Linked DNA regions of Homo sapiens: region 2 is linked to region 1. Evidence: fine-mapped expression QTL. A gene starts in region 1. The other region holds a variant in brackets. All regions are shown on one strand. Distances are from middle to middle.

Region 1 (10,115 bases):
ACAGCAAATATTTACCCTTTATACTGTTTCATTTATCTATCAGCTCTATAAATAAAACAATACATTCTAAAATTATTTCATCTATTTCAAGCTACTGTACTTGATTCTGGGATTGGCTGGACAAGAATATATTTATCCTGTTTTTAAAAATAAACGTGGCTTGGCAAGGTGGCTCACGCCTGTAATCCCAACAATGGGAGGCCAAGGCAGGAGGACCCCTTGAGCCCAGGAGTTCAAAAACCACCCCTGTCAACAAAGGGCGACCCTTGTCTCTACAAAAACAAAAAAGAAAAAAAAAATAGCCAGCATAGTGGTGTGTGCCTGTAGCCACTTGAGACGCCGAGGCAGGAGGATCATGTGAGCCTGGGAGTTTGAGGCTGCAGCAAGCTATGACTGCACTCTAGCCTGGGCAACATAGTGAGACCCTGTCTCAAAGGTGAAAACAAAAATAAAGTTCAAATTCCTCCTCAGTATGTCTTTTCAACCCCTATCTTAAACGTGCTTGTGTGTGTGTGTTTGTGTGTTTTGGGGTCTATATTCCCTCAATCATTTTCATTTCTCTTCTTAGGTTCTCTTCAAGTTTCCATTTATACTTTTGTTAACCAAAAAAGTATTAAGAAAGGTCCTTGAGGACCTGCTAAAGCTGAATGAGAGACATTAGCACGTAAGTTAATGTAAACCGTTGCTTTCAATATCATTTATTTGTTTTTAAAAGTTAAACATTCTGCTTAAACTTTTTTCACAAGTAAAACAATAAGCTTTAAGTCTCGATCACGTGTGAATTATGGTCATCTCTGAATCAGCAGTCTTATTAACAGGATTTTATTGTAAAATTCTTTATCAAGGCACTTTAGTATAGCAATGAGCAAATTTGTGAGAGTATCCATTTCATTCTGGCATTTTAAACTAATTTTACATTTGTTTAAACCATGGAAATCATGACATCTGTATAAAAGTTGTCATTAGCGATTCACAATTGAGGGAAAGGTTAAGACCAGAACAAAGCCAAATAGTAATAAAAATGCCCGTTTGATTAAAAGGATAGTTCTTCCATGTGTACTGTGCACTAATTATTTGATGCTAGCTCAAATAGCTTCCTTTTTTTTTTTTTTTTTTTTTGAGACAGAGTCTCGCTCTGTCACCCAGGCTGGAGTGTAATGGCACGATCTCAGCTCACTGCAACCTCCACCTCCTGGGTTCAAGTGATTCTACTGCCTCAGCCTCCCGAGTAGCTGGGACTACAGGTGCGCGCCACCAGGCCTGGCTAATTTTTGTATTTTTAGTAGAGACAGGGTTTCACCATGTTGGCCAGGATGGTCTCAATCTCCTGACCTCGTGTTCCGCCCGCCTCAGCCTCCCAAAGTGCTGGGATTACAGGCATGAGCCACCACGCCTGGCCAATATCTTCCTTTTTTGTTTGTTTGTTTTTTTGAGACGGAGTCTTGCTCTGTCGCCCAGGCTGGAGTGCAGTGGCGCGATCTTGGCTCACTGCAAGCTCCACCTCCCGGGTTCACGCCATTCTCCTGCCTCAGCCTCCCGAGTAGCTGGGACTACAGGCGCACGCTGCCACACCCGCCTAATTTTTTGTATTTTTAGAGAGACGGAGTTTCACCATGTTAGCCAGGATGGTCTCGATCTCCTGACCTCGTGATCCGCCTGCCTCGGCCTCCCAAAGTCCTGGATTACAGGCATGAGCCACCGCACCCGGCCTATCTTCCTTTCTTAAAACTGACTCTGAATAAACAGACATGTTATAGCAGGGTAAATGGCACCAAAGGGAAGTTGTGACTTACTCAGATTCATAAGACTGTTACTGCACTGAAAGAGAATACCCAATCTCAAACTCTCCATTCTCTGTTTCTTTTATTAAGGTGTCATTCTGGTGACCCTCTTCTAGTTGACCTTTTCTCAAATGGCAGCCAAAACAGCAGGCAAGGTCAATAATGAAAGTAACTAAAATTAAAAGAAAAAATTGGCTTCTCCCTATGAAAACTGATTCAAGATTTAATAATGTGTGGTGCTCTAAAAGCTGCAACTACTATATGGTCATCTCCAAGTCCACTTTAACTCAACCAGGGAGGCCATTATCAAAACATAACTCACTGGTACAAAGCAGAGATTAAGTAGCTGAGAATGTTACTAGGCTGAAGTCTAACTGAGAGTAAAAAGGATGATCTCATAATGTCTCTTTATGATCTGTAAATCACATTATTCCATAAATCTGACACAAATGTCAGGATTAGGATTAAGAGTCAACCCTCTGCTGGGCGCTGTGGCTCACACCTGAAATCCCAGCACTTTGGGAGGCCAAGGTGGGCGGATCACGAGGTCAGGAGATGAGACCATCCTGGCCAACATAGTGAAACCCCGACTCTACTAAAAATAAAAAATTAGATGGGCGTGGTGGCCCACACCTGTAGTTCTAGCTACTCGGGAGGCTGAGGCAGGAGAATCGCTTGAACCCAGGAGGCGGAGGCTGCACCACTGCACTCCAGCCTGGGCGACAAAGCAAGACTCCATCTCAAAAGAAGAAAAAAAGGAGTCAACCCTCTAAGTAGGAAAACAAAAATAAGCAGTAACAGTTTTCTAACTTAAGTGTAGTAACTTTCACTTACTTCTAAAGTCCAGTAAAAGTTCAAGGTCTCTTCTTCATATTTAGAATTTTAATGTTGGGCAGAAATCCAAGAACCTTCTTCAGGCTCAATGAAATTTTGTTAATGATACCCCTGAATTTTAATTAGGTGTTTTCGAAAACACTAATGCAAGATAAAGTTTTAGTGAATTTGACTAGATTCCAAAAAAGTATTCTTATAAATGGGGCAGTTTAAAGTCTAAAATTCAATTTTGTTAGTATCCATGTTTATCTGGATTTGTTACGGTATTTTAGGCAAAGATACAAAATAGCTATTTTTTTAAGCAAAGGAGTAAGATTTGGAGTGACAAGTCACAATAACTTCTGAAAAAGCAAGACTGGACTGCAAATAATATCAATGTCCCTAAGGCCACCTGTTAAGCTTAAAATCTATGCATTCCATCATTCTTTAGTTGTAACCACAAAGTCTGGTTTTACACCTAGGAAATACAAAAAGCATCAGATTAAAAGCATCAAATATCAGACTATACGAGTTTGCCAAAGATAAGCACAGCAAAAAGAAAAGCGTGATACAAAGTTAAAGAAATATGTTCCAAGGGGTTTAAGCACACCCACAAAATCCAATCTTTGCTCACACTGTGCTTCAACCTAAAACTGACGGGTAACCACAAATCCTGACTTATCCCTGACTTACTTCCCTCTACCAACCTCCACCCTTTTTATCTCCTAAATTTCTCAACTGATCTCATCACTTCTTATGGGTCTTTGCAACTCTCATCTCCACGGCCTTTCCTTTCCCAGAAAATGATACAAAGCACCTGGCCTCCACATTTTACCGTCCCACAATTTACCTTTAAATTTTGTTTTGCTTACCCTATTAGATACTCATTTTGCCCCAATCTCCTGTACCCATGTTTCCCTGACAATCTGCTCTTACTTTTCATCACCTTGTCCTTATTACAGTATTTAGCTTCTCCTTTCAAAGTAGCGTTATGTACCCCTCCCTGACATTTGTAATTCTAGCTTACAGTCAACACCCTTTTCCCCTCCCAGGGACTGTCATTATAGCCCTAGGTCCTCATTCCCAGTCCTTATCTTCTTTAGTGAGGCCTCTTCCCTTCCAGAGTTTGTCAACAGTAGTTTGGCCAAGCTGGGATTCCACCCTCAAGGCAAAGGCTATCCTCCCTCCTCATTCTACAAAACTATAAGCCTCTCACCAGCCCTAGCGTTCCCTCCTCCACCCTTAAATCCATCTGCATCCAGCCCTGCCCGTTCCCCTCTACCCACCGTATCTGTCTTCACTCTATCCCGCGCTCCCTTCCCCAGTCGTGAATGCACCTCCTCTCCCGGGCCTTACCGGTAACCCTGACACCAGGAAGGCCCCGCCAGCGGCCTCACGGCGTTTCTCCAGAGAGCTTCCTCCGCTTTTCAGTAACAGTCCCCACGCCCCTTTCCCTCCAGGGCCCCGCGCGCCGCCTGGAGCCCCCTCCTCGATTAAGCTCCCGCTGTCACTTGGCCTCTCATCCACAAGATGGCGGAGCCGCTGCCCCCACCCCTGGGTCCGCTCCGCAACCCCCAGCCTCCTTTCTGGAGCTCCCATCCCATCCCTCCAGCCGCTCCGCCGCCAGCCTCGGCCCAGGGTCCCGCTGCCCGGTCCCGCAGTGGGCGGGCGGCCCAGGCCAGCGACGCCGCCAACGCCAGCGCCTCCACCGTTCCCCGGCCTCCACCGTCTCCTCACCATAAACTTGAGTGCCTTCTCTTGCAGCACCGCCTCGGCCGGGTCCATAATCGCCGAGGCCACTGGGTCCGCTCTCCGCCGGGGCCGCCCCTTTGGTGCCAGGCCGCAGCCAACGCAGCGCCCGGATCCCGCCTCCTCTTCCTTCCCCCCGCCCTCTCTTACCTCTCAGGCGCAGGCTGAGGGGCCAAGGAGAATCGGCTTCTCCGTGCGCAGGCGAAAGCCCACTGGCTCACGGGATTTGTAGTTCTGGAACTTCCCCCAGGAAAAAAACTGAGGCTACGCCGTGAACCGCAACTCCCACAGTTCACTGCGGCAGCGTTGCGGTTGCCCACAAGCCAGATTTAGATAAGTTGCCATTACGCAGAGGAAATCGGCTGATGGGAATTGTAGTTTACAGCCTCTAAGGATGAGAAACGGGAGGGGCACGGGTGTCTCCGTGGTTACCGAGCGACGCCAGTAGCGGCTTGCCTGGCATTTGATATCAAGATGGCGGCCAATGCCTCACTTGTAGCCCAAATACTAAGAAAAACTGTGGCAAGAATCACGGGTCCTAGGACCTGCCTAACTGTGGTTTTAGGAAGCTGAACGTCCCCAAATTTCATGTATCTGGCATCTGCAGGTTTGCGACCCAGAGTAGCTGGGCCAATGGGCACCTGGCAGCAGCTCACAGACAAATGCGGAATTTCAAGGTCCTCCTAAGCCATCGCCACCCACACTTCTCCCGAGGAATCTTTTCTCCCCCACAGCAAGTCAGGGCCGAATAGAACTCGGTTCAAGAAATTCTCAGTGTTTAGAGCTCAAAAAGCACATAACTTGCTATTGCTAACTGTGGGATGTAAGCCCTGCACTAAGGGTCAAACAGGTACTTAACAAAAGTCCTTCAACGGTGGAATATAATGGCCTCCAGCAAATAAAGCATATAAATATTTTCTTTGGCCTGAAAAGGTACAATATGGGTTTATTTTGGAAATTGGGTCTACCTTAGGAGGAGAAAACTCTAGGGTTTGGTTAAAAGTGATTTAGGTTGTTTTAAGCTGCTATGTTTGTGATAATTGGTTATACAGCCTAAAAAACTGACACACACCCAAATGCCCCTCAGCAGGTGGTTGTATGAACAAATTGTAGCATATTCCATATGTAGCACAGTGGAATATTACTTAGCAATGAAAAAGAACAGTATAACAACAACAACAACAACAAAAGTGATTTAGGGCCAGGCGCGGTGACTGACGCTTGTAATCCCAGCACTGTGGGAGGCTAAGGCGGGTGGATCACCTGAGGTCAGGAGTTCGAGACGAGCCTGGCCAACATGGAGAAACCCCCGTCTCTACTAAAAATACAAAAATTAGTCGGGCCTGGTGGCACGCGCCTGTAATTCAAGCTACTCGGCAGGCTGAGGCATGAGAATTGCTTGAACCCGGGAGGCGGAAGTTGCAGTGAGCCGAGATCACGCTACTGCACTCCAGGCTGGGCAACAGAACGAGACTCTGTCTAAAAAAAAAAAAAAAAAAAAGTGAGTTAGATTGTGACAGCCTTGTACAAAATATCTGAATTTATAAAATAAATGAACTAGGAAAATACTTTTTGACTTATAGGAAAAAATCTCCATTTTAAACTATCTTATTCACTCAGTCATCCAACAAATGGTAAGCATATAACCGTGTGCAGACATCATCTCAAGAAATAGGGATTCATCACTACTTGGGTGGCTAAAATATCAGACTTCACCACTATAATTCATCTATATAACCAAAAACCACTTGTACCCCAAAAACTATTGAAATAAAAATAAAAGTAATTAATTAAACAAAAAGAAAAAGGAATGGGGATTCATTAATGAACAAGACAGACCCAGTTATTTCCTCGTGGAGCTTACACTTTTACTCTGTTGATACTTTGTCCTAGCCCCTATATCCACAAAACTCAGCATGATACTTAATACATAATAGGCTTTCAGTTAATAAAAAGTTTTGTTCTTGAATTTTTAAAAAAATTCTACACAAGTGCAAAATGGAGAAGACTTCAAACGCATTCGTATGAAAACTAGCTGGAGGTTTTCAGAGGACTAAGGCAGTAACAGGATGGAGTTACAAAAAAAATAAATAAATAAATAAATGAAAAGATAAGGTGGGATGATGGTGCAGCCACTGGAAAAGAGTATTCCAGGCAAAGGTAACTGCATTTTTGGTGATTGATTCTGAGAACCAAAACAAGATCAGTGGGACTTTAGAGGAAGAGTGGCCCTAGATGAGACTGCAGAAGAGTATGGGGCTCTATAGGCAAGCCATTATTTAGCCGGCATAAACTGGTCAGATAAATCAGCTGACATGCTTTCTAAACTGGCATCAGGGCCTGTACCTTACCAGATATAAAATACCTTGACTTTCACTCCAGCTTATAGGCCAAGTTCAGTCATTTAGACTGTATCCTGAGAGCTGTGAGAAACTAGCTGAACAATTTAAAAAATGGTCAGATTTGCATTTTCAGAAAATCACTCAGAGTCCAGGGTGGAGGAGAGATTAAAATGGAGCACAGCTGGAAGCTTGGGGAAAGGATTATGAGGTTGCTGAAATATTCCTGGGAGAGATGATGGCAGCCTGAATGTGGTGGTGAGAACAGAAAGAAGTAGATGGATTCCAGAGATACTAAGAAGATAGAATCAGTGGAGTATGGTGATTGATTAGATGTGTCATGGATGATGTCAAAAGGATGTGTCAAAGATGACTTCTATGTATCTGGCTCAGGTAATGAATGAGGGATGCCATATATATGTATTTTTTTCTTTTTTTTGACAGAAAGCACAGTAGAAGTGGTAGGAGGATAATCAGTTCTCTTTTTGGACATATTGCTTCAAGGTGCCTGTGAGATTTCTAAGTGGATTCAGATGTTGAGGAGGCCATTGGAGATTTGAAACTGAAGTTGGAGGGAAAGACCTGGGCTACAAATAGGGATTCCAGCATGTAGGTGGTAAATGAAACTCCACTCCCGCTTCTTCCCCCGAAAAGAATGAAATCATCCAGGGAGCTGGGCATGGTGACTCACACTGGAAATCCCAGCACTTTGGGAGGCTGAGGCAGGTGGATTACCTGAGGTCAGGAGTTCGAGACCAGCCTAGCCAACATGGTGAAACCCCATCTCTATGAAAAATACAAAATTAGCTGGGTGGGGTGGTGCTCACCTGTAGTCCTAGTTACTCAGGAGGCTGATGCAGGAGAATCGCTTGAACCCAGAAGGTGGAGGTTGCAGTGAGCCGAGATCACACCACTGCACTCCAGCCTGGGTGGCAGAGCAAGACTCTGTCTCAAAAAAATAAATAAATAAAATAAAGAAAGAAAAGAAATCACCCAGGGAAAGCATAAACAGTGGAAAGAGCAACAGGACTAGGACAGGGTCCTAAAGAACTGTAAGATTTATAGGACGAGCACAGGAAGAGGAGCCTACAAAGTAGCCCAAGAAGTGACCAGAGAGGTAGCAGGAAAGTCTGGTGAGTGAGGATCATGAAGGGGTTAGGGGGTGCAGATGCCACACTGCAGCCTGTTGAAGAGGGAGGTGAGGATATGAAGACTGCTGAGTCTCTTCTTTACAAAACGTGGCTATCTAGGGAAGGAGAGAAAAGCTAGCACAGTGGTGGGATGTAGAAGTTGAGAGTCTAAGGAAAGCATTGTTTTGTCTGAAAGAAGGAAGATTTTAGTTCAAAGGAAATTGAAGAAGCATGGCAACTAAATGCAATGAATGATCCCTGATTGGACACAGGAACAACACACATACACTGACACTGATACACAGCAGAGAAAACAGCTATAAAAGGCATTAATAGGGCCAGGTGCAGTGGCTTACACACAGGTGTGGGAAGCCAAGGCAGGAGGATCTCTTGAGCCCAGAAGTTCAAGACCAGGTTGGCAACCTGGCAAGACCTTGTCTCTCTCTCTCTTTTTTGAGACTGAGTCGCGCTCTGTTGCCCAGGCTGGAGTACAGTGGTGCGATCTCGGCTCACTGCAAGCTCTGCCTCCCAGGTTCACGCCATTCTCCTGCCTCAGCCTCCCAAGTAGCTGGGACTACAGGCACCTGCCACCTCGCCTGGCTAATTTTTTGTATATTTAGTAGAGACGGGGTTTCTCTGTGTTAGCCAGGATGATCTCTATCTCCTGACCTCATGATCCACCCGCCTCAGCCTCCCAAAGTGCTGGGATTACAGGCGTGAGCCACCGCGCCCAGCCTAATTTCTGTATTTTTAGTAGAGACAGGGTTTCACCATGATGGCGAGGCTGGTCTTGAACTCCTGACCTCAAGTGATCCACTCGCCTCGGCTTCCCAAAATGCTGGGATTACAGGCGTGAGCCACCATGCCCCATGCCCAGCTCTTAAAAAAATAAAATTAAATAAATAAAGACATTAGTGAAACAGTCAGGGAAAAACTGAATATGGGCTGTGTATTAGATAACAGTATTTTATCAATGTTAAGTTTTCTGAGTGTGATAACTGTGAGAATAAGAAAATCAGAGAATGTCTTAGATGATACATGCTGAAGTATTTAGGGTGAAATGTTATGATACCTGCAGCTAACTCTCAATTGGTTTAGGAAATAAGGAAGGTGTCTATGTGGAGTGAGAGAGAAAGAGGGAAGGAGGAAGGGAGGGAGAAAGACAACTAAAGCGAACGTGGCAAAATGTTAAGAATTGATGGATCTGACTGGGTGTGGTGGCTCACATTTATAATCCCAGTACTTTGGGAGGCCAAGGTGGGCAGATCACTTGAGGTCAAGAGTTCCAGACCAGCCTAGCCAACAAGGTGAAATGGTGTCTCTATTAAAAATACAAAAAATTAGCCAGGCATGGTGGTGTGTGCCTCTAATCCCAGCTACATGGAAGGCTGAGGCAGGAGAACCCCTTGAACCCGGGAGATGGAGGTTGCAGTGAGCCGAGATTGCACCACTGCACTCCAGCCTGGGTGACAAAGAGAGACTCTGTCTCAAAAAAAAAAAAAGGAAAATTGATGGATCTAAGTGAAGGGTTGTAGGAATTCGTTGTACTCTTCTTGCAACTTTTCTGAGGGTTTGAAATTTTCCAAAATTTAAACTTGGGGAATAAAATGAAGTGAGATACTTGAGCATATTTAAATGCTGATAGAAAGGATCCATTAGAGAAAGGCTAAGGATGAAAGAAAGAGGATAATGATGGCAACAGTTCCTGAGAAGACAGGACAGAAAGGGATCTAGGAACAGATGGAGGGATTAGCCTCCTCTGAGAGACAGGAGGAGGAGCGTATGAGGACAAATAAAGTTAAGTTTAGAATTGGCAGAGAAAGGTTAAGGTAGTCCCTTCTTCTTCTTCTTTTTTGAGATGGAGTCTTGCTCTGTTGCCCAGGCTGGAGTGGAGTGCAGTGGCACGATCTCTGCTCACTGCAACCTCTGCCTCCCTGGTTGGATTATCCTGCCTCAGCCTCCTGCGTGGCTGGGATTACAGGAACACACCATTACGCATGGCTAATTTTTGTATTTTAGTAGAGACGGGATTTCACCATGTTGGTCAGGCTGTTCTCAAACTCCTGACCTTGTGATCCACCTGCCTCAGCCTCCCAAAGTGCTGGGATTACAGGCATGAGCCACTGCGCCCGGCCAAGGTAGTCCCTTCTAATAGGTGTCGCAATAGGCAAGTAACAATTTCTGCCATACAAAGAAATAAAATTTTTGTATTTTCTGTTCTTCTGGATTATGTTTTTCCCTTTTCTTTTATTAGCACAATTAGTGGAAAAGTCGCTTTTCTTTTTAAATTAATATTGTTTTAA
Region 2 (10,115 bases), 200 kb before region 1:
TAGTGGGGAGAGCACACTCCCCATTGGGCTGCCCAGCCTCTCCTTCCCTGGGCCCGGGTTCATGAGGTGCCTGGGGGTCTGGCCAGCCCCTGAGGACCGCATGCAGCCTGAGGTGGTGCTGGTGGTGGTGGGGGGTTCCAGCTTGGGTTTGGTAATCACCTTGCTCCCCTCAGAGTTGCTAATTGAAAGCAAGGGGTGTTGTAGGCGCAGCAGGAGAGGGTGGGGACTGAGAGCTTCCCTGAGAGGCTCTGCTTCCATGGGGGGACGAAAACAATTTCTCCAGGCTTCACCTCCGTCTCACCAGGCACCCACTTGGCCTCTCCTGCTGCTAACGAAGTGCCTTTAATTAGCAGCCTAATAAAGTGCTCTTAATTGGCAAGAGCCAATCAGGAAGAAGAGAGATCTCCTCCCCTTAGTCATTGCTGATGGTGGCACAGCTATAGGTTTAAAGCAGGGAGGGATTCCTGGCCCAGCCTGGGAGTAGGAAACCACGGCTATAGGGTTGAGACTTGCCAGGGCAGGCCCTAGACCACACCCTTCCTGGGGAAGAGATCTGACACAGTTTGAGGGTGAGGTCCACAAACTCTTAGGCTCAGCCTCTGCTCAGGAGCCCAGCTGGTGAGGAATATTAACTGAGCAGATACCAGTGGCCCCACAGTGGTTCCTCTGACACCTCCCTCCCTTCCTTCTCTCTCTTGGGTGCTGCCTGCCCTTAGTTGTTAGGGAGGATTCTTCAGTGTAGTTTTGGGCAATGTGGGTCCCTTTTCTTTCTCCTCAGTTTCCTCATCTGCCAAGGGTTGGGTGGACCTGATGCTCTGACATTCTTCCAGCTCTAGTAGGGAGGGTTCTGCACAGCGGCCCTGATATTGACCACAGTCTGAGATTGCTCATGGCCAGTGGTCAGTCCAGACAAGACAATGAGACTACAAGGCTGATGGAAGCCAGAGAGCCTTGGTCATGTGGAAGGGTTATTAATACAAAAAGCCCATAGATCTAAAAGAAGGATGGGTCAATTTTGACAAGGATCCTGTTTGTGACACTAGAGAGGGGAGGGGTACAGGGCCAACGGGGAGAGATAGTCCCATTCGGCCACTGCCTGCAACCTTGTACCTCTCCAGGTTTGGCTGAAGGAGGGAAGGGGGGTTTCACTCAAGAACTGCAATGTCATATCCCAGATAGTCAAGGGTGCCTTCATTCTTACAGCTTGTTGGAGCCCCTCTGGAAATTGCTCCCAGATGTGAGCTTGCTTGCCTATAAACTGATCAAATGGGATGTAGGGGAAACTCAAGTCTTTTCACAGCTGAGGGGCAGAGAAAAATGTAAATTCTGCATTCAGGTTGGGCTGTGGTTGGCTAAGGTGACCAATGCACAAATGAGACATGACTTTGGCTTCAATTTAACTCAACATGGAACAGTAGGCGTAAGCCAGGGACCCCACACTCATCCACAGCATCCAGCCCTGCTTTCTCTCAATCTTGTTTTCTCATGTCAGATTATCTGCAAAGGTATTCTATCTCTGCACTCCCTCAGTCTGTATACTGAAAAGTGTACTGCCCTTCTGGATGCTGGGGCAAGGAGACAAGACGCTTAGAAAATTCACTTTAATCTTATATTTGTAATTTACTTTTTTTCTGAACAGTTAAAAAAAACCCAAAACACACTCCATTATCATGATCCTAGGTTGTGAACATATTGGTACACTGACTACACATCACCATAACATAATCACAAAAGTCAAAGCAGTCAGTACTTAAGAGTCTAGAGAACAAAGAGGTGAACCAGCTGAAAGCTCTCGGGGAAGCTTACATGTGTTGTTAGGCCTGTCCCATCATTGGAGTGCACTGGCCATCCCTCAGATTTGTCTGGGCTGGCCTGAGTGGTCACCGCTTTGAGAAAGCTGTTAGTTTCCTTGGTGCCCAGAGGGCTAACACCCTAGTTGGCCTTTTCCTTCAGTGTCCAAGAAGGGGAAGGGTTAGGAGGGGAGGTAACACTTTAAAATACGACTTAACTGCACTGATCCTTAATAAAACACACAACCAATCAGGAGCTAAGAGCGCCAGCTGTGCTGGTTGGAAAGCACATATTTTAGATGTCATCTGCCTCCAGGACATTTTAGATCACAGGTACTCAACTTCCAACAGAAGGAGCTTCTAAAGATCAATGCATTAAGTTCCACCTGAAACCAGGCAGCCATCATCATGCTCTTTTGATTTCTCTCTTCAGCTCCAAGGATTCTGACACCACAGATGAGCTAAAGAAGCGAAACTGTTTTATTCCCCTAAGAAATGGCTCTCTTTCCGATACTATGTTGACACTGTGGTTAAAGGAGGTCTGGTCTGTTGGTGAACAACTGTGTGGAGGAAGACCAGGGAGGCTGCACCCTAAGCCTCCGGGCTGCACTAATCTGGGTTGGACTGCTCTGCTACAGACTGGAGGGTGTTGCCATCTAAGGCAAAAGGGAGATGCTGAGAAGGTCAACAGTACCAAGGTATCTAGTCCAATTATGGGAAAGAAAAAAATTGCCCTGATTATTTCCAGTATTCCCCACCCCTCCCACCTTTGTTTCCCCACACAATCAAGTGCTAAGTAAGGAGTAGACCAACTACAGCTGTTCAGACCAATGGTACCAGGAGCCGGCAAGGGAAGAGTGCATTTTTTTTTCTCTGTAGCTTTAGACTGTACAGAAGAAAAATAAAAAAGGATTGTTCTTACTCAAGCAAAAAAACCAGAATGATGTAGGGGTCTCACAGACTTTTCTAGTTCGGAAACAAGTTATGAGGGCCAGACTTTTATTACTTGTCAATAGAGATCCAAAAAGAGTCCCTGTCTCTGAAGTTAGGAGACACCAGAAAGAATTTTGCCAAGGGACATGTACAAATGGCCTTCCATCCATGATTCACATCCTTTCAAATTGCACACCAAGTTAAAGGATGTTCTCAGCAGTGAAATACACACACGTGCAGCAAGGCATGCTGGTCTTGTCCAAGTAGCTCCAGTGTGCACCAAAAGGTCACGTGTCTGTACCTCCTCATCTGCCTTTGAAGGGGTTTCAGCCTGTCTTTAAGAAAGGTTTCCTTTAGGCCCTACGTTGGAAAGTAAATTTTAGTGAGAAGAGACTAATCTACAATGGGGACACCTTCAGCTCTGTTTCTACCACTCCTTGGAATGTGCTGAGACTTTGTCTCTCTTTTCGTTTTAAAAAGGTCAAACTTTACATTTATTCTAGCCCAGTTGGGGATTAGTGATAATCAATTCCCACTGAAATCATGCAGAGATGGTAAGTGGGGTTTACCTTCTCTGGAAATGAACTTTTAACTTACCTGATTATTTCTTCTACAACAAACTGGTAAATGACCCCCAGAGCTGAGAAATGTGAACGATTCAAGTTTTTCAGACCACTTAACTTCATTCCCATTTCCATCAGCAGGAGAGAGGACAACTTGGAGAATATCCTCAACTGGGCTAATGGCTCCACATCTGCAGGGGTCGCCCCGATCTCCTTTGTGATGTACTGGACATGTCTCAAAACAGTCTTAGAAACAATATTCCTTCAACTGAACCTAGATTGGAGAGCAAAACCCTGGGCACCAATAAACATTCAACAGCTTCCACTTTGTAATAGCAGCATATGACAGAAAGGCTGGTAAAATTATGGCTATTGGGCAATATTTTGAGACAGCTCGAAACCCATGCCTTTTAAATGTCTGACCTGTGTGTTTTTCAGGGCTGACAGCCCTCTACCTTCATCTATAGCAAAATCCTTACCCAATCAAAAAGCCATTAATAGTCAACACAATAGATGACGAACCCTGATAGTGGCCAAGTAGAAAACATTTCTCTGTAGCATTTGGGTAGCTGGGAAGGGAATTACATTGAGAAAATATTTCTTAGGCTACGATGTATCATTATACTGGGAAATATTTTCTGAATATAACCTTGAACTAAAAGCTTAAAAATACTCATAAAGCAGGAAAGGTAGAATGCATATGCATAAAATGACTCTCAATATGTAGTAACAACATTCAGTGGGTACACCTTGGGAAGAGGATACCTTCTTGCCTGGGGAGACCAGCTGGGTGCACATTAATAGTATTCTGTGTGCTCCCAGGTTGGTGTGGCACAGGTACCCTTGCACCTGAAGCCCACTAGCTTGGCAGCTCACACAGCTGCCTTCCGAGTGACTGGGTTTGCCTGACCCTTGCTGAGGTCCAGCTGTTTATGCTGTTCACCAATCGCCACAGACGCTTTATTGGCTGGGGAGAGTGAAGAGCAAAATAAGGTCAGGAGGAGGAAGAAAAGGCAGTTTTTGCCCCATTAATAAACCCTGTGTGCCAAACTTCACCCTGATCCTCTCTCTTAAGCAGCTTTGCCCTTCTGCAAATACTGGGTGTGGGAGAAGCAGAAGGAAGGTTGTGCAGTGCAAGGTTGACACGGTGAGATCAATATTTGAGAGATGATATTTAACTGGCCAAAACAAAACAAAACAACAAAAAAAACAAAAACAGTGTTTTCTCCTGACCATCTCTCTTAAGCTACCTTGATCACGGTCTTGGCAAAGATACAGGCACCTGGGTATTCACAGGCCCTGATGAGGAAATCGGAGATGGAAACCATTACGCAGAATGCACCAAGCGATTGGCTCTGGCCATTTCAAATCTTTCTGTAGGCTGAGCCTTACCAGTGATTTAAGATGAAGTACAATGCTTTTTATTACACACCCAATTGTTAATGAGAGGAAATGCAATCAGCAACTCCTTTCCACACTCTACATGGAATCAAGGAGACTGCTGAGTCCAGAAAAGATGCAGCCATTGATGGAGCCCAGGAAACTTCTCCCCACCCCCTCTGCCTGCCCCCTACCACCAATCCTCCTCTTGGGTGTGGGGAAGAAAGAGAGAGAAGAGTTGCAAATATGATGAGAGTATCATGTCTGAGAATCCACTGTTGCCACAGGGTCACTTGCAGCAAAGGCCTGGGGCTGAAATCTTCACTGAACAGCATTTAACTCTTCCAAGTGTTGCATTTTCTGGCTGATCTGGCTCATGTGAGAGGAGGACACTCTCTTCGTACACTTTCTTCTCAGGTGAAGCAGACAGAGAAAAAAGGTTGAAGGGGCGTA[G/C]GGGAGTAGATGGGAAGAGGAACAGAAACAAAGAGAAGGCAGGCAGGAGGCCCAAATCTTCCAGTGTATACATTCTTGTGTTTTCTTTTTCTTGTCCCAGAGGCTATACAGAGGGAACTCTGTCTCCTCCTAAGCATATTGGGGCTGGGCTGCTCTGGCCAGGTGCTTGGCATTCCTGCAGTTAACAGGGAGACACTGGGCACTGGGCTTGAAGCTGCATCCCCCATACCCTAGAAGTGGGTCTCTCCCAGCAGGCTATACAGGGAAACTAGTTCTTCTGCTTAATGGCAAAGCAAGAGAGATTCTGGCAAAACACTAAATATATTTATAAGTCACCTTTGTCTGGAACCAATGGGAAAAAACTAGGTGCAGAGGTGAAAGGAGGAGAGGAGGGGAGGTTTAAAAGTTCCAATCATTCACAAAAGATAGAAGACATCTTCTGATAGCAGCACTGAAGCAGTCAGTTGTGCTGAGTAGACCGTCCTGGGCCGACTGCAGACCAACTGTGTCCCAACAGGAGTCTCAAAGCCCTGCTCCTCGGCTAGTCCAGGGAAACTGGGCAGTAGTTTGATTGTTACTGTTGTTGCTCATCCTGGTATTGGCAGATACGTTAAATACCGCAACTTTAATGGGTCCTGTGTGAAAACAGAGCAAATAGTCATTAGCCCCTTTTTTGATATTTCTTACTTGCTTGAAGACAAAAGAACATTCACTTAGCTGCCAATGGGGAAAAGGCTTAGGGGTCCTTCCTAATGCCTGCTCTCTGCCTATGCCATGCAGGAGCTTCTGTCAAAGGTGACCTGGCCTGATGGGGGAAGTTATACTAAAGGCAGGGCTTGCTGACATGCTCAGGGCTGTGGTGTTCAAGCAGAGTGACTCTGATGTCTTGAGGCTGAGAGTGCCCACGGTTGGCATAGCTTTCACTTGCCCTGTAGAATGGCAGGGCAGGGGTGGGGGATGGTCTGTGGGCCCTGCCTTTTGAGTGGCCATGAGCATGGCGGTGCCAGTAACAGAAGTGGGGGAATCAAGGAAAGCTGGCCTGGCTGTGTGGCTGCAGGGTACCAGCAGTGTAAAGGAGGGGACAGTGCAGTTGAGGATGTGAGCACTAGAAGTGCTCTTGCTATCTTCAAGGACAGCTGTGTGGATGGCAGCTGGAAATGTGGCCTGGAGATTAAGGCAGAGGCTTGGACTGGAGACAGAAATTTGAGTCTTCTACAATGAGATGAGATCTGAAGCCTTGGGAATAGAGAAGGCAGCCTAAGAAGGAACTCAGATAAGGAAGAAAAGCCAGAGACAGGCCGGGTGCGGTGGCTCACACCTGTAATCCCAGTAACTTTGGGAGGCCAAGGGAGGTGGATCACTTGAGCTCAGGAGTTCGAGACCAGCCTGGGCAACATGGTGAAACTCCATCTCTCCAAAAAAAAAAAAAAAATACAAACAATTAGCTGGTCATGGTGTTGTGTGCCCGCGGTACTCAGGAGGCTGAGGCAGGAGAATCACTTGAGCCCAGGAGGTGGAGGTTGCAATGAGCTGACATTGTGCCACTGCACTCCAGCTTGGGTGACAGGAGTGAAGCCCTGTTTCAAGAAATAAAATAAAATAAAATAAAATGAAATAAAATAAAATAAAATAAAAATAATAAGAAAAGCCAGAAACAGACTCTTGGGAGTGAGGGGGAAAGAAGCACAAATAATCAGAGAGTCAGGAAGAATATTAAAAATGGCAAAGTAACACGGAAGTCTAAGGAAGAGAAAATTTTGGGCAAAGGAGGGGGTAGGTATATGGAGATTGCAATATTAATACTCATGACCAGTTTTTCCTGAGGGCATATTATGTATTCGCCACTGTGCTAAGCACTAGGAATTTTCCATGCAGTATCTCCACACAGCCTTCACAGGGTTCCGTGAGGTGAGTGCTGCCCCTCACGTTACTCATCAAGAGATTCAGGGTCTGGGAAGTTACTTGTCTAAGGGCACACAGCCTGTGCGACCTGGCTGAGGAACGACGAACCGTGTCCTCTGTGAGAGAAAGAGAAGCTGAGGACAGCCCAGCTGGGCGTGAATCACTGTCCTCAGCGGAACACTGCAAAGAGAGATGCAGAAACGTGTAGCGAACATGTACTTCCGCCACGAGAACTGAGGCACACGTGGCAAATCCTGACAGCAACGCTCCTCAGCAGCTAGGGCAGCCTTCTCAAACTGGTAACAACCTAGTGTATTCGAACTGGTTAGAACAGCAGGTATGATCTGAATATACCACAATATGTATGGACCACCTGGGTATTTTAGGATCTTCCCCTGCCTGAGAGAGAGGTTGGAGACTTGAGTGGGAGGACATGTGGAGGTCAGAGGTCAAAAGACAGGTCCTCTTTTTGGAGGGTTGAGGAATAGGGATAGGGATATAAAAGCTACTTTTTATATTCCTTTTAAAATCTGCCCTTTTATTTATATGTCAGTGTGAACTTTCACCAAGAGATGTTTCCATTCACACATTAGACATCAGACTGTTTACTTGGCTTGAAAGGTCTCTATTGTAGGTATTGTTTGATCTGGGAACTTAAACATCACAGGCCTTTGGGTCATTACAGTACTTAGTTTTCAAACTGATTCAAATCTCATTTTATTTTCATAACAGTACTACTAGATAACTAGGGCAGGAATGACTAGGCTTACCACACAAGTAGGACCCTAGAATCATCTAGAACTGAGGCTGGCTACCTTGGTGAAAGGCACTGTCCACACTGTGGCAGCTTCAGCCCTGTCTCACATTGTCTGCTTCCTCGGCTTTACAGGAGTTGGTGACCCAAACGGCAGGAGAAAGTTCCATGAACTAGCAACACCTTACAGCTAATATCCCGTCTCCTACCCACAGTGTTATGTACATAATCGATTTCGATACCTGGGCAAGTATGAGGTCAGTGTATGGTTATTTATCTGGAGATGTAGGTGTATGTTCGAGAAGGGGAACGGGGGGGTTCAGCTTGGGCAGCTGGATCATTTAGGAAGTCCCAGATGAGGATTGTGTCATCATGTGAACTACTGACAATCTGGAATTCATCAAACTGTAGTCGAAAAACTCTTCCGGAATGCTCCTAAAGAAGTAGAAACAAAAAGGGTAGGAACTTGAACTACTCAAAATCAATAGGACACAAATTCAGCAACATGTCAAAAGGAGTCTACGGAAAGGCTATGGTTTGCTGTTATAAAGAGGCCAGGCGCAGTGGCTCACACCTGTAATCCCAGCACTTTGGGAGCCTGAGGCATGCGGATCACGAGGTCAGGAGATCGAGACCATCCTGGCTAACACAGTGAAACCCCATCTCTATAAAAATACAAAAAGTTAGCCGGGCTGGTGGCATGTGCCTATAGTCCCAGCTACTTGGGAGGCTGAGGCAGAAGAATTGCTTGAACCTGGGAGGTGGAGGTTGCAGTGAGCCGAGATCACTCCACTGCACTCCAGCCTGGGCAACAGAGTGAGACTCTGTCTAAAAAAAAAATAAAATAAAAATAAATAAATTAAAAAAATAGAGAAAATTTACTTTGGCTAAAGGCAGCATGGAAAAGTCAAATACTAGGCAGCTGTAAACAAAGCAATACTCTTTGGCCAAGACATGCTAAATAGCATGCTATTAATAGTTTCTCATGGCCAACCCTTTTTGGCGTAGGGTGGATGAGAGCATTCCTTACTACCTCCCTGGTTTTTATCTTCTAAGTTCCTTCTACAATCAGAGGTCAAGGATTGGTGAGCAATAAGAAGCAGTATGCTGATAAATGTTTATCAACCAAACTTTGCTACTTTGTAAAACCATCGGTAGATTTCCACGGCATTAAAAACTCCTATCATGGCCAATTATAAGCTAGTCATAGTCAACCAGCTGGCAAAATTCATGAATATCTAATAGTTGGCTCTCATAAGTGAGTATGAGCCTGTTCTAGCACACCACTGGCAGTTACCACCCTGATGAAGATGTAGAATGTTCCCAGCATACTGGAAAACAATCTCACACCCCTTACTAAACAATGTTACCTCCACTCCAATTTTATCATCATCATCTTTTTTTTTTTTTTTTTTTTTTTGAGACAGAGTCTCGCTCTTTCGCCCCTGCTGGAGTGCAGTGGTGCCATCTCAGCTCACCGCAAGCTCTGCCTCCCGGGTTCACGCCGTTCTCCTGCCTCAGCCTCCCGAGTAGCTGGGACTACAGGCGCCTGCCACCACACCTGGCTAATTTTTTGTATTTTTAGTAGAGACGGGGTTTCATCGTGTTAGCCAGGATGGTCTTGATCTCCTGACCTCGTGATCCACCCGCCTCGGCCTCCCAAAGTGCTGGGATTACAGGTGTCATCATCATCATTTTTTTTAGAGACAGAGTCTTGTTTTGTCACCTAGGCTAGAATGCGGTAGTGTGATCATAGCTCACTGTAACCTCAAACTCCTGGGCTCAAGTGATTTTCCTGCTTAAGCCTCCCAAGTAGTGAGGACTATAGACTCATGCCACCACACCTGGCTTTTTTTTTTTTTTTTTGTAGAGATTAGGTCTTTTTGTTGCCCAGGCTGGTCTTGAACTCAAGACCAAGCAGTCCTTCTGCCTTGGCCTCCCAAAGCTCTGAGATTATAGGTGTGGGCCACTGTGCCTGGCCCAATGCTGTTATTGTTATTAATTTGTTTAGTCTCTTACTGAATTTCATATAAATATAATCATATAGTATGTATTCTTTTGTGTCTGGCTTTTTTTTTTTTGAGACAGAGTCTCGCTCTGTCGCCCAGGGTGGAGTGCAGTGGCGCGATCTTGGCTCACTGCAACCTCCGCCTCCTGGGTTCAAGCGATTCTCCTGCCTCAGTCTCCTGAGTACCTGGGATTACAGGCACATGCCACCACACCCAGCTAATTTTTGTATTTTTAGTAGAGACGGGGTTTCACCATGTTGGCCAGGATGGTCTCGATCTCCTGACCTCGTGATCTGCCCACCTCGGCCTCCCAAAGTGTTGGGATTACAGG

Evidence for each region. PIP is the estimated chance that this variant, and not a neighbour inherited with it, causes the effect. A credible set is the group of variants that fine-mapping cannot tell apart.
Region 2: its variant is the best candidate, but not a certain one, in a credible set for the expression of BTRC in whole blood (TOPMed, PIP 0.55).

What each region holds. Positions count from the first base shown.
Region 1 is chr10:101,348,445-101,358,559 of GRCh38, reverse strand. It overlaps BTRC (beta-transducin repeat containing E3 ubiquitin protein ligase), which reads right to left and starts at 4,395. Exons shown (of 15, transcript NM_033637.4): 1 at 4,332-4,395. The coding sequence starts at 4,379. RefSeq lists a silencer at 4,172-4,351 and an enhancer at 6,620-7,819.
Region 2 is chr10:101,548,794-101,558,908 of GRCh38, reverse strand. It overlaps BTRC (beta-transducin repeat containing E3 ubiquitin protein ligase), which reads right to left. Exons shown (of 15, transcript NM_033637.4): 14 at 8,018-8,210; 15 at 1,596-5,754. The coding sequence ends at 8,049. Among named protein-coding and RNA genes, the nearest start is that of POLL, 34 kb to the left of the region's middle. The variant G/C (reference allele first, on the strand shown) is at 5,120.